Linked DNA regions of Homo sapiens: regions 1 and 3 are each linked to region 2. The links come from fine-mapping of genetic effects on plasma protein levels. A gene starts in region 2. Each other region holds a variant in brackets. All regions are shown on one strand. Distances are from middle to middle.

Region 1 (4,246 bases), 23 kb before region 2:
ACAAAACAAAAAAACCCCTGAGCACAAATGTTACAGCACAAGACAGTAAGGATTGGCCTCTGCAGAAGCTGTGAGCTCAGAAGAGAGATTGATTCCAAGTGGAGGGAGGGAGTGGGCTTTGCAGAGGAGACTGCATCTGCACTAGGTATACTGAAGACACTGCAGAATGGATGCAGGGCATGTTGAGGGAACAATAGATAATATTCCAATTTGGCTGAATGTCTGAGATGGGGAAGGGACAGTTTACAGATGTGTCTGAGTGGGATGTAAACGTCAAGTTTAGGAAATTCATAGACTTTACTCCTTGGGGAATAAAAGTGCTTGTTTTTGATGTGAATGTTTGTTTTTAAGCTGAGGAATGACATAATTATTATGCTTTAAGATCATTATGGCAGACATGCACAAGATAAATTAAAGGGATTAGAGGAAAGAAACAGGGAGGTTGAGTGAGAAGACTTGCAATTGGCCAGATGATCTAACAAAGAAATGACAGAGGACTTAAAAGAAAGGTACAAACATAAAAAAAAAAAAAAAAAACAAAAAGGCAGGAAAATGATGGGATAGAGAGAAAGAGTTGAGTCGCCGTATAGAAGTATTGGGAGTTCCTTGTGAGAACTATTGACAAAGGCAATAAACCATGAAGCAATTTGCAGTTTTGAAAAATGATCATAAACACACACACACACATATATATATATGAAAAATATACATGGCAAATGCACTTTTATTTTTAAATCAGACTATATAGACTTGTTTAAAGCAAAATTAGTAAGGACTTTTTTTTTTAATCTTCATCACCACTTCCCATTCCCTTTGGAGAACACAACATATCCTAAGTTTGTGTTAGGAAAAAGTCCCTTTCCTTTGGGTAGATACTCAATAGTGGGAATCAAAGGGGAGTTCTATTTTTAGTTTTTTAAGAAATCTCTGTACTGTAAATCTATAAAAATAAAAAATTAAGAAAAGAAATAGTCCTTGTCTTCAAAGGAATATATGAAGTTAACCAAATTCACTCCCATAAAATAGTGAATTTCATCCTTTACTTTGACATCTTTGTTAGATCCAGATGGTTGGACGCTCTCGTGCATCCATAATTCATACAAAGCCCATATACATTTAGGTAAAGGGAGTCCCTTCAATCAATATTTCTCCCCAAGATGTTTCAGTCCCACATAATGTAGGACTGTAATGTAATGTATATCTAAGGTAATGTTCAGTCCCTCAACATAAAGCTGGTCTCAGTAATATGGGCCAGTCTTACATAATGTGGGACTGAAACATCTTGGAGAGAAACTGTGTGGGAGAAGGGAAGTTTATAGTGCCCTTCATTCTTTGTGGGGTCTAATTTCTTCATTGAGTAAAGACTCACATAAGCTTCTTCTCTTTCTAAAACTTAGTTCTGATGAAGCCATCCCTCCACCTGTTGTCAGCTGTGGGAACCCCATGTCACACACGTCCTGTCCCATGAGCTCTATACATCCCCACCGGGGCAATTCTGCCAATACGTAAATTCACCTAACGAGCAATTTACCAGTTGTAGTCACTTACTGGAAATGTGTTCACAGACTTTGTACTGAATGAATCCAGGTGGTCTAGAGAGGTTGGGAGGAGCCAGGACCAACATTCTGGGACTTCATACTTCCCCTTTCTACTCAGTTTCCCCCTCTTTTTTCCCATTATCCTCCTTCCTAACTCTATGCTCCTCTCTGCCCTCACAATCTTGTGAAGCTGGAGACAGCTGAGAGCCAGGCAGGTTGCATATCATGAAAACCACCTCACTCATCATCTGTGAAATTCATAAAATGTGACAAATTTCTCCCACCCAATAAGATATGTTATGAACTATGAAAACTATGGGAAAAAGTTTCTTCAATTTTTGACAATGAGTAGATTTGTTGTGTTTATTGAATTTCAGTGAAATTGAAGAAAGAGATTAAAAACACCAGTGGGGTGGCAAAATAGAATTGACTATGAAAAATCAAAAGGATAAGAGTAGAAAGTGGAAATTTCCCCTAGGAATTGTTGCAGTTGTTATTACATTCACAAGAAAAATATATATGTTGAATATGTTCAGAAAAATATTCATGACTATATTTACAAAAATACAACCATAAGATTAAATCATTAGCTTCAAGAAGTTGAACAAAAATATCTTAAATGCCACTAAAATATGTATTCATTAGCTACATTCAAAAAGGATATATTTATACTCATTGAATACTCAAAATGATTTCTTTTTCTTTTTCTTTTCTAAAATTGTAATAGAGATGTGATCTTACTATGTTGCCCAGGCTGGTCTCAAACTCCTGGCCTCAAGCAATTCTCCCGCCTCGGCCTCCCAAAGTGCTGGGATTACAGGCATAAGCCACCATGCCTGGCCTCCAAAATGAATGTTTCTTGAAACAATGTTAGATAAATTGATACTTTGATAAATTCAGCAAATTTATTTCTATGAACTGATCCTTCAAGTACTGGCATTCACTCAATTGGCTTTGATGACTAACTTTTCGGTATTGTGGTCTGACCCCTTAGGCTCCAGCTATCCTGGACAACCAGAATTCCTTACCATTCCCAGCACTTTCCTATCTCCC[A/G]TTCCTGTCCACATCATCTACCCTCTCTCTTTTTCCTCTTTAATTCCTACTCATTCTGCCAGTCCCTTCTCCAGCATTCCCTCCTATCCAAGCAAGCCTCCACATACCAAGTACAATTTTGTATTTATAACTCTGATTCGGACTTGGTCTGTAACTCACATCTGAAGTCTGCCTTCACCACTAAACCACAAGATCCTTGAAATGACAGAGTATGCTCCCATTTATTTCTGCCCCACAATAGTACCTAGCCTGCGCCTCATGAAGTTAAAGTGCTCACAAAATGTGCATTGAATTTAAATCCAAAAGCTCCTAGTGATAACGTGTGTTCCAAAGAAAAGTAGTACTGTGCCATATCAGTGTCTCCCCTTACAGTGTATGCTTTGTTAAGGACTGATTTTACCTGATTTTAAAGCAAGGCAAACACCTGTATTTTAATGAGAACTGGCCCAAATAATTTTACTCTAGGCTCTTCCATTCTTAAACTGAAGTCATCATATCATCAACTAGTCAAGGGAGGACAGTGAAGGAGGGAAGCAGTAGGCAAAAACTGGTTCTCCTCCTTCCACAGGTTATGACAGGAGATACAGACAAATGCAGACCCTACACTGTGATGAGGAAGTTATTTCACTCCCTTTACTTCATCCTCACACCTAGGCCATGGCCACAGAGCTGGGGACAGAGGAGGACAGTGTGGCCAAGACCTTGGGCATGGGCTCTGGAGTCACACCCAGAACATGTGAGTTGGCGTCCTGGCTCTACCACATGGGAACCGAGTCCCATGGACAAAACACTCAGTTCCTCTAAGCCTCAGTTTCCTTTATTATAAAATAAGAAGGATAACTGTAATTATATCTCGGAATTTCTGAGAGGGGCTTGGCATGGTGTGTGGACAGCACATAGTAAACATTCAAAAGAAATTATAGGGAAGAGTTTCATAGAATTGGCATTGGAATGTCACTCTGTCAGAAGCCAAACTCCTGGATGTCAAAACATTGTCATCATAATGATTTAAAATTGCAATAAATGGTTGCATCACCAGGGACTTTAATTACACCCCAGTGCAGAGGAGCATCCACTGAACTTCCGGCTAGAAGCCCTGGATCTGGTCTCCACTGTGGCCTTTGGTACAGTGAGATCTAATGTGTCATGCACAGCAGAGGAATGCTGGGGCCTCTGGGGCTGTCCTGGGGCTTTGTCTTCCCTTGCCCTCAACTATCTTCCTGAAAGGAAGTCATCCACATCCATAACTTTAATCATCATACCTGAATCACCCACAGGTCAGACGCGGTAGCTCACGCCTGTAATCCCAGCACTTTGGGAGGCTGAGGCGGGCAGATCACGAGGTCAGGAGTTCAAGACCGGCCTGACTAACATGGTGAAACCCCGTCTCTACTAAAAATACAAAAATTAGCTGGGTGTGGTGGTGCACGCCTGTAATCCCAGCTACTCAGGAGGCTGAGGCAGGTTAATCGCTTGAACCCGGGAGGCAAAGGTTACAGTGATCCGAGATCACACCACTGCACTCCAGCCTGGGCGACAGAGAGACTCCGTCTCAAAAATAAATAAATAAATAAAATGAATCACCCACAGACCTCTGGGCCTAATTGTCTCTGGTTCATGCAAAAACTTCCATGCTCCATAAATTCAATTGTTAA
Region 2 (4,199 bases):
CTTGGCATATCATGTGCTGTCAGAGAACCCTTATTAGATTTCCCCATTCTCATGTCTTTTTGCTGGATTATTGATCCTGATTCCTGTGCTCTTCCCAAGTACTCTGTATTCTACTCCCAAGTAGCCGGGACTACAGGCACCCGCCACCACGCCCAGCTAATTTTTTGTATTTTCAGCAGAGACGGGGTTTCACTGTCTTAGCCAGGATGGTCTCGATCTCTTGACCTCGTGATCCGCCCACCTCGGCCTCTCAAAGTGCCGGGATTACAGGCTTGAGCCGCTGCGCCCGGCCGGAATTCCGAAGTTTTATTTTCAAAAGTATAACAGGAATTTTACTCAAATTCAACCACAAGTTGTCCACTTCTAAACAAATAGTCCCCTACACAAATAGCGATCCTGGAGTTTATAACAAGTAAGACCTCCCAGGATTTTGAAATTGGTACTCTTTTTGCTCCCAGAACAGAAAGGGAAAGTAAAAAAACAGTAACCACCCACTTCAGAGATCAGGGTTATCATTAAATGTACACTAAGCTCCTATTGAGTGCAGAGCATTAGGCCAATTTGAGATTTTTCAATAGAAGAATAAAGATATTATAAATGTAAACTTCCTTAAAGCCCTAGACAGAGTTCCTCAAAACACCGCAAAAGGACACCAAATGCCTGTAAGCTGAGTTGAAGGAAAGCATACGTACCATCTGAAGCAGAAACTCGCCACGCAACCATAAGACAGCACGCACACCAAAAAAACATCTGGTGATCAAAGTCCTCTCCCCAGGCTGGAATTCACCCAGCTCAGACACCTGGTTTGAAAAAAAATAGATCTTCTAACACTGCTTAAGACCAACCTAACCACCTCCTCTCTAGAGAAGAGGTTATATTGATTTACCCTCCCTGGAGAAAATGAAAAGAAAAAATCTTACGACAGGAAATCAGAACAGCTGTAAGGAAGCTGGTATAGGGAGGAACTGCAAAAATACAAAGGGATGGTAAAAGAGTTGCCAGGTTTAAAACTCAGTTTCAGAAATTTCCTGGTTTCTGGGAATGCAAATCCAGTTGACCAGTCTTTTTGAAACGCAGGCTTATCCTTCCCCAACAAACATGGGCCAAATGGTCTTGCCATGACCTTGACTTCTGTCAATAGTTGCCAATGTTTACAGTCCAACTTCTGTAACTCTGGCCAGCACTGGGGAAAGAGAACGGGCTGTCAATCCCTGGTTCTTGCCCAGGTAGAACACAATTTTGAATGCTACCTCATCCTCCTTTCCTGAATACCAGATATCCTAAGGCTGTAAGCAGCACTGAAGACGAAAGCTCAAGGAAGTAAACTAACCTTACCTGTCTCTGTCCCTCCAGAGTTAGGGCTTCCCAGCAAGGAACTGGTCTTAACTGACTCCAAAGCTGAGAGCTCCAAAGTCCTGCAGTGACACATTGTTCTCGCTTGCCAGGCCTGTACCCAGGCTTCCTACTTTGTGGCTCTTCCAGGGACAGGATTTGGCCTGAGTCCAGAGTTAACCAAATGAGTAAAGAGAGAGGTGAGGAGAATGCTTTGGTCTCAGGAATTAAGGCATGTAAAATTGTTTTGAGGGATCCCATATCATCTTGCTTGTGACTACTATAACCCTTGGTTGGTTCTCTGTGCTGTAATTATGAAACTGGGGAAAAATTCCTACAAAATTTCAGGTTTTAATAGAATAATAAAGCATTAAGGACACAGTAAGGTTGCAAATGTTCTTCTCTTCTCCATCCATTACTACTGTTTGTGATGATTAATCTATGTCTTTCTCCTGAAAGGAATCAGGATATGCCACCCCCAAATATTTGGCGTTAAGATTCTTTTAAGCTGAAGATATTTGAGATTCAGTGATATGGAAAGGAACAGAGATTTTGGGGGCTTTCCTTATCTGACTAAAGGCAGCAACCTTGGAGATAAGGTTGCCATAAATTCCTTTTCAGGGTAGGTCTATCCTGGAGGGGAGAGCATGAGTAAAACATATTTCAAATTCCTTCTCCAGAGAAATTTCATGGCCTTGAAGGAGACAGAAAGAACACTCGTACTTATATACACAAACATTATCACAAAACTTTCTAATTTCCTACTTTTCCCCTGAAAACCCACTTGCCTTTCCAAAAAATAATCTGTTTTCTTTTTTGTTTGAGATGGTGTCTTGGCATGATCTTGGCTCACTGCAACCTCCACCTGCCAGGTTCAGGCCATTCTTGTGCCTCAGTCTCCCGAGTAGCTGAGATTACAGGCATGCGCTACCACGCCTGGCTAATTTTTGTATTTTTAGTAGAGATGGGGTTTCACCATGTTGGCCAAACTGGTCTTGAACTCCTGACCTCAAATGATCCACCCGCCTTGGCCTCCCAAAGTGCTGGGATTATAGGCATGAGCCACCGCACCCGGCCAATAATCTGTTTTCTTGTAAGTGCCTTTCTTCTCCCCACCTTCACCTATTAAGATGATGTATAAGCCCCAATTCTAACCAACTTTTTGAATTACTTATCACTGAGTTTTCCCACATGTACTCAAGTTACATGTATAAATAGAATTTTCTCTCCTGTTAATCTGTCTTAGTCTAATTTGCAGGTCCCAGCCACTGAATACAATATGGTAGAGGAAAGGTGTTTTTTTCCTCCCCTTTATTCCCACAGGAAACTGCTAACTCCAGGACAGGGTTTGTGTCTGATTTGTATTTGTATTCCCTTCCACGGTGCTTCATATTGCAAAGCAGTTGTCTGTTAAATGAATGAAAGTAATGCAGAAATAAATGAAAAAAACTGTCATCCAGAAACTCTACCACAGCCCCCAAAATCCATATGATCACTTGCCATTTATCACATGCTGCCTTATGATTTTTTATGTCTTATCTTTTCTTAACTAATATGCAAATTCCTATAGTGTAAGCACCCTCTAAGACATGATTTTCAAAAAGTTAAAAATATGACACAAGTAAATATAAGATGAATATATATCAAAGATTTAATTCAACTCATTAATTAATGAGGAAACATTCAGATGCTACAACTGGTTCAAAGAAGAATTTGAGGAATAGGAATGCATATAGTCAGTCAGTCAAAAGCATTCTGAAGTGACCTTTCCAATAGATACAAAACTGGTTAATATCCTACAGAGTAACAAACTGTAATATTTGCAATTAGCTTTTCTACCTGGTGGAAAGTAATTAAAACAAAATGGACAAAATATATTTGCTCTACTATAACCAGGAATCATTTGCATTGTTCTCAGATAAGAGTCATTTGCATTCCTATAAATTTACTGCAAATTAACCTCTATGCTTAAAGAGTTCTAAAAGAACTTTAAATAAAGTCAGTCAGAGATCATCTCCAGAGGGCCTGCTAGAAAATGCCCAGGAATCCATTGAGCATTTACTCCAGTGATCTCTTTTTGCTAATCCTAAGCTTTGAATAATTTTTATTTACATACCCCATGTTCTACTTCTTGAGGAATGCATGTTCTTCAGTATCTTTTATAGATTTATATACAGAATGTTTGTACAATAAATTATTTTAAAAAGGAAGGAAAATCTAGTTTAGCCCTACATAAATATGGACATAAAATAGAACATGTATTACAGGAAATAATTGCAAGTAATTCTTCATCTTAATGGCTTACTTCAGATTCAGAACTATAGGACTTTAGAAACCATATCACTTATACTATTGTCTTACTAATATTTCTCCATAAAATATAAAAATACAAAAATATTCACACTAAGTGGGCTCTATAGAGACAATAAATAGCATCACAAAGTTTGGGTCAGGTTTTTTCTGTCAAATGAATTAGAAGAAAACTTTGTCTCAAAGGTTTTTGGATTTTAGAATTAGAGATTAAAGAAAGAAACAGAGAGTGATTGAGAGAGAGAAAGAGAGTAATATGGTGGGTCTTGGGGGAGAGGCAGAATCAGAGATAGATGCAGAGAGATAGAGATGCTTAGGAAGGGGTGTCTGGGGACTCTGAAGGACAAGTCTCCACCTGGCACTGCCATTGTCCCCCGCCCCAATCCCACTCTTCCCTCCTCAGCCCTCTCTCCCCACAGGATGAGCAAGAGCATCAGAGACAGAGATGGAGACAAAAGACAGACAGAGGAGACACTGACAGAGTGAATCAGAGAGAGACAGAGACAGAGGAATTTCTCCTCTTCTCTCTGCCTCCCTCCTCCTCTCCCCAACACCTC
Region 3 (4,215 bases), 43 kb before region 2:
CATTCTCCATGTCAGTAACTCGACCAGTATTAAAATGGGGTCTTTTGGACATACTCAAACACTTCCAGTGCTCATTTGTTTAGGAATTATAATAAAAATATTCAGCAATCATATGGTTTGGATATTAAAACAACAATAATATTTATGAAATGCTTTGCAGTGCAGAAAATACTTTTAAATATGTAAGTCATGAGTCTAAATTCACATTTGATCAGGTTTCATAACTTGGATAAATACTACTTCACTTCTGCTTTTAAAATGGTTAAAAATATTCTTTATTAAATAATTAAATCAATAAGATCATAGGGGATCAAATAAATGTAAACAACTGGGTCCTGCTCTGTCATCCAGGCTGGAATGCAGTGGCATGATCTCGGCTCACTGCAGCTTTGGCCTCTTAGCCTCAAGTTATCCTCCTACCTCAGCGTCCTGAGTAGCTGGGATTACAGACGTGTGCCACCACATCCCGCTAATTTTTTAAATTATTTGTAGAGACAAGGGTCTCACTCTATTGCCCAGGCTGGTCTCAAACTCGTGGGCTCAAGCAATCCTCCCGCCTCAGCCTCCCAAAGTACTGGGATTATAGGTAGGAGCCACCGCACCTAGCCTAAATACAACTATAAAGGAGGTTTTTAAACATTTATAAGCAATACTTTTTGTTATTTAAGTAATGGCGGTAAGTTTTATTAAGTATATTTTTAATTCAGTCCTTTTATTAAAATCTTTTATTCTATTTCCCCAAAATGAGTCTGAATAACTGCAATTAAACTTTGTTAAGTCTTAATATGAAATAAGTAATCTTCTGACAGGTTGATCTAAACTACCACTTTTCATTATTTATGCATTTCACAGATTGTTGAAATTCTGATATGCAGCATAAAATTCCCTGTATTCTTGGCCTCAGTGTCTTCACCTCTAAAGTGGCAAGGTTCTGATAGATGGATAGAAGAAAGCATTTTCTTCCTCTCTTGTCTGTTCCACTGAGGCTCATAATATAGTATCCACTTGTCGTTCAGTCCCTCACTCATTTCCACAAATAAAAGAGGTGCGTCTCCTACCAGAGAAACTGGAGGAAGTCTCCTTTCTATCCTTACGAAGTGAGAATGCTCAGTCACGAGTCAGGATTTGTCTTCTAGAGGCAGATCAGGAAGCCCTGCCATCTCATGGTTCAAGAGACATGAGACACAAGTCACCCTGCAGCTGGTTACGCTCATGACTGTTTCACAAACTTGTCTTCTGCCAAACACCCCAAAGCCCATACTGGGGAGGTAAGGGCTATGAAGGAAGCCTGACTCTGACAATAGTTGAGCTGTATTCTCCATTCTAGTTTTACCAGTAAGAAAACTAATACATAATCTGCATAATGTTTGACTTCTGTGTCTACTTCTCATTTGATTCTGAACTGGGATAAGGAAAGGTTACAATTTCTCAGTGCCTCAAACTGTAACATGTTTATGGTCCCCTTCTGGCACTAACAGTTTACTAATCTGTTGAATTAACTTAATTCTAAACTTGTTGTGAGGGATAAAATTATATTCATTTAAGGTAGAGAATCCTAGCACATACTGGACATTTAATATACAAAAATATTAAAAAACAAAAACTCACCCTCACATCCTTGGTATGGGGTCCATCTCAAATTTTTCTGACAAATCACAGTCGTAGGCTCATCTGTAGTGGGTTTGTAGCCAGGATGACAGCGGTACCTTAACACAGTCCCAACAACATACACATCCTCTTTTGTCGGCCTAGGATATGTTTCCCAGGAAGCATGTGGAATGTCTGGTAAATTA[A/G]TACAACTATCTACTCATGAAAGAAGAAGAAGAAGAACAAAAGGACGCTATTACTAGGGCTGCCACAGCAGTCAATAAGCCTGTCCTATCAAAGGGGGTCATACGTTCATTCAGCCTGGAACCAGCCTGCAAGGCCTGATGTATCAACCACACCAGAAAACACACATGGACATTCGCTCAAATGTGCACACCTCCAGAGAGGCTCTTCACTAAGGGCACTCCCAAGTGGTTTCCATGTGCTGTGCCAAGTATAATAATTTTAATTCTCATTCCTCTTCTTTACATTTCAGAGATTTTAGTTTCTGAACTGAAGCATGGCAGGAAAACTGTCACAAACAAATCTAACTATGTTTACTGATTGATTGGGGAAAATAAACAGGAGCCGTTCCCCTCATCCAGATGATACCAGGAATGACTTGGCAAGAAAAAAACCAAGCTCCAAACATTTTTTGAGCCTGGGCCTTGGATCTTGTCCTCTTCTCTCTTTCCCAATGCTACTGATTCATATGATATGAAAATATAATGCAAACATCTACCACGTTGGATGATTATTGAAATGGAATATAAAAGTTCTTTTTTAACAGCATTATTCAGATTAAAGTCACAACAAATAAATTCACCCATTTAGAATGTGCAATTCAATGGTTTTTAGTATATACAGAGTTGTGCAACCATCACCATTAACTAATTTCAGAATATTTTTATCAACCCAAGAAGAAACCTCATATTCATTATCAGTCACTCCCTATTTCCACCTCCCCCTAGGTCCTGACAACCACTAATCTATTTTTTTCTTTATGGATTTGCCTAATCTGAGCATTTTAAATAAATGGAATCACACAATACATGTACTTTTTGTGACTGGCTTATTTCAGTTAGCATAATATTTTCAAGGTTCATCCATGTTGTAGCATACATTAGTACTTTTTATTTTTCATTTTTATTGCCAAATGATATAATCTATTTTATGGATAAACCACTTTTTGTTTATTCATTATTCATTTGATGGGCATTTGGGTTGTTTGGCTATTATGAATAATGCTGCTATGAATCTTCATGTAAAATTTTTGTGTGTGGACATATGTTTTCATTTATCTTGGGTAGATACCCAGGAGGGTAATTAGAGTCATATGGTAACTCCATGGTTAAACTTCAGCAGGACTGCAAAAACTCTTTTCCAAAATGGTTGCACCAATTTACATTCCTATTAGCAGTGTATGAGAGTTCTAATTTTTCCACATCCTCACCAACATTTGTTATTGTCTATCTTTTTTATTACAGCCATTCTGCTGGATGTGAAGTGGTATCTGATTGTTACTAGAAGGCTATCCTTACAAGAAATGCTAAAGGAAATTGTTCAGACTGAAAGCAATTGACACCAGACGGTAATTTGAATCCACACAGTAAAACAATGAGCATCAGCAGAGGTCATTATGTCAGTAATTTGAACCACAGTATAATATATATTACTACTCCTTCCTTCTCTTAGCTGATTTAAACAGCAATTGCATAAAACAATATGTATATAATTGCATTATTAAGCCTATAACATACAGAAATGCAATATATTTGACAATAACATCACAAGAAAGGTAGGAGGGAACAAAGCTGTATTATAGTACAGAAATGACACCAGATGGTAACTTGAATCTACAGGAAGAAATAAAGAGCGCCAGAAATGAAGAATAAGAAGATTAACATAATAAACTCTCTAAATATATACTTGCCCTCCTTTCTTCTCTCAGCTACTATAAAAGACATGAAACATGAAATTATATAAAACAATAATTATAAAAATTTATTGTGCAGTTTGTAATATATGTAAGTGCAAAATATGTTGTTGGATTCTTGGTTGAGGTTTTTATCTTTCTGCACTTTGAATGTGTCATCTAGCTGCTTTCTAGCCTCCATTCTTTCTGATAAGGAATCAGATGTTAATCTTACTGGGGTTACATTGTACATGATGCGTTGCTCTTCTCTTGCTGCTTTCAAGATTTTCTCTTCATTCTTGGTTTTCAACATTTTGATTATAATGTCTCAAGGTCTAGACCTTTTTGCAATATCCTACTTGAGTTCAACAAGCTTCTTGGATATGTAGATTAATGTGTTGTTTTGTTCTTTTGTTTGGGTTTTTTTTTTTTTTGGTCAAATTTGTGATATTTTCAGCCATTTTTCCTTTGTATAGGTTTTTATCTCCTTTCTCTTTCTCTCATCTTTCTGGGACTCTCATTATACATATGTTGGTACACTTAATGGTGTCCCACATTTCTCTGATGCCATTTATTTTTCCTCATTCTTTTCATCTCTGTGCTTCAAATTGCATAATCTCAATTTATCTTCAAATTCACTGATTCTTTTTCCAACTCAAATCTACTGTTGAGTTCCTCTTTTGAATTTTTCATTTTACTTACTGTGTTTTTCA

Direction of the effects. Alleles are on the strand shown, and positions count from the first base shown. The strength of an association depends on the size of the effect and on how common the allele is.
With allele A in place of G in region 1, the plasma level of the protein whose gene starts at base 1,422 in region 2 is lower (moderate association).
For the plasma level of the protein whose gene starts at base 1,422 in region 2, allele A in region 3 goes with a higher level than allele G (moderate association).

What was found. A credible set is the group of variants that fine-mapping cannot tell apart. PIP is the chance, under the fine-mapping model, that this variant and not a neighbour inherited with it causes the effect. Protein levels are from antibody-based Olink assays in UK Biobank. Linkage for the fine-mapping came from a reference panel and not from the study's own genotypes, which makes the PIPs less certain.
Region 1: its variant is the best candidate, but not a certain one, in a credible set for the plasma level of the C4BPB protein (UK Biobank, PIP 0.78).
Region 3: its variant is the best candidate, but not a certain one, in a credible set for the plasma level of the C4BPB protein (UK Biobank, PIP 0.84).

What each region holds. Positions count from the first base shown.
Region 1 is chr1:207,108,642-207,112,887 of GRCh38, reverse strand. All of the region lies in intron 1 of C4BPA (complement component 4 binding protein alpha), which reads right to left. Among named protein-coding and RNA genes, the nearest start is that of C4BPA, 6.5 kb to the right of the region's middle. The variant A/G (reference allele first, on the strand shown) is at 2,592.
Region 2 is chr1:207,086,083-207,090,281 of GRCh38, reverse strand. It overlaps C4BPB (complement component 4 binding protein beta), which reads right to left and starts at 1,422. Exons shown (of 7, transcript NM_001017365.3): 1 at 1,336-1,422; 2 at 693-800. The coding sequence starts at 750.
Region 3 is chr1:207,129,134-207,133,348 of GRCh38, reverse strand. It overlaps C4BPA (complement component 4 binding protein alpha), which reads right to left. Exons shown (of 12, transcript NM_000715.4): 8 at 1,609-1,803. LOC107985251 (a long non-coding RNA gene) reads left to right here. Exons shown (of 3, transcript XR_007066838.1): 3 at 3,075-4,215. Among named protein-coding and RNA genes, the nearest start is that of C4BPA, 27 kb to the right of the region's middle. The variant A/G (reference allele first, on the strand shown) is at 1,794.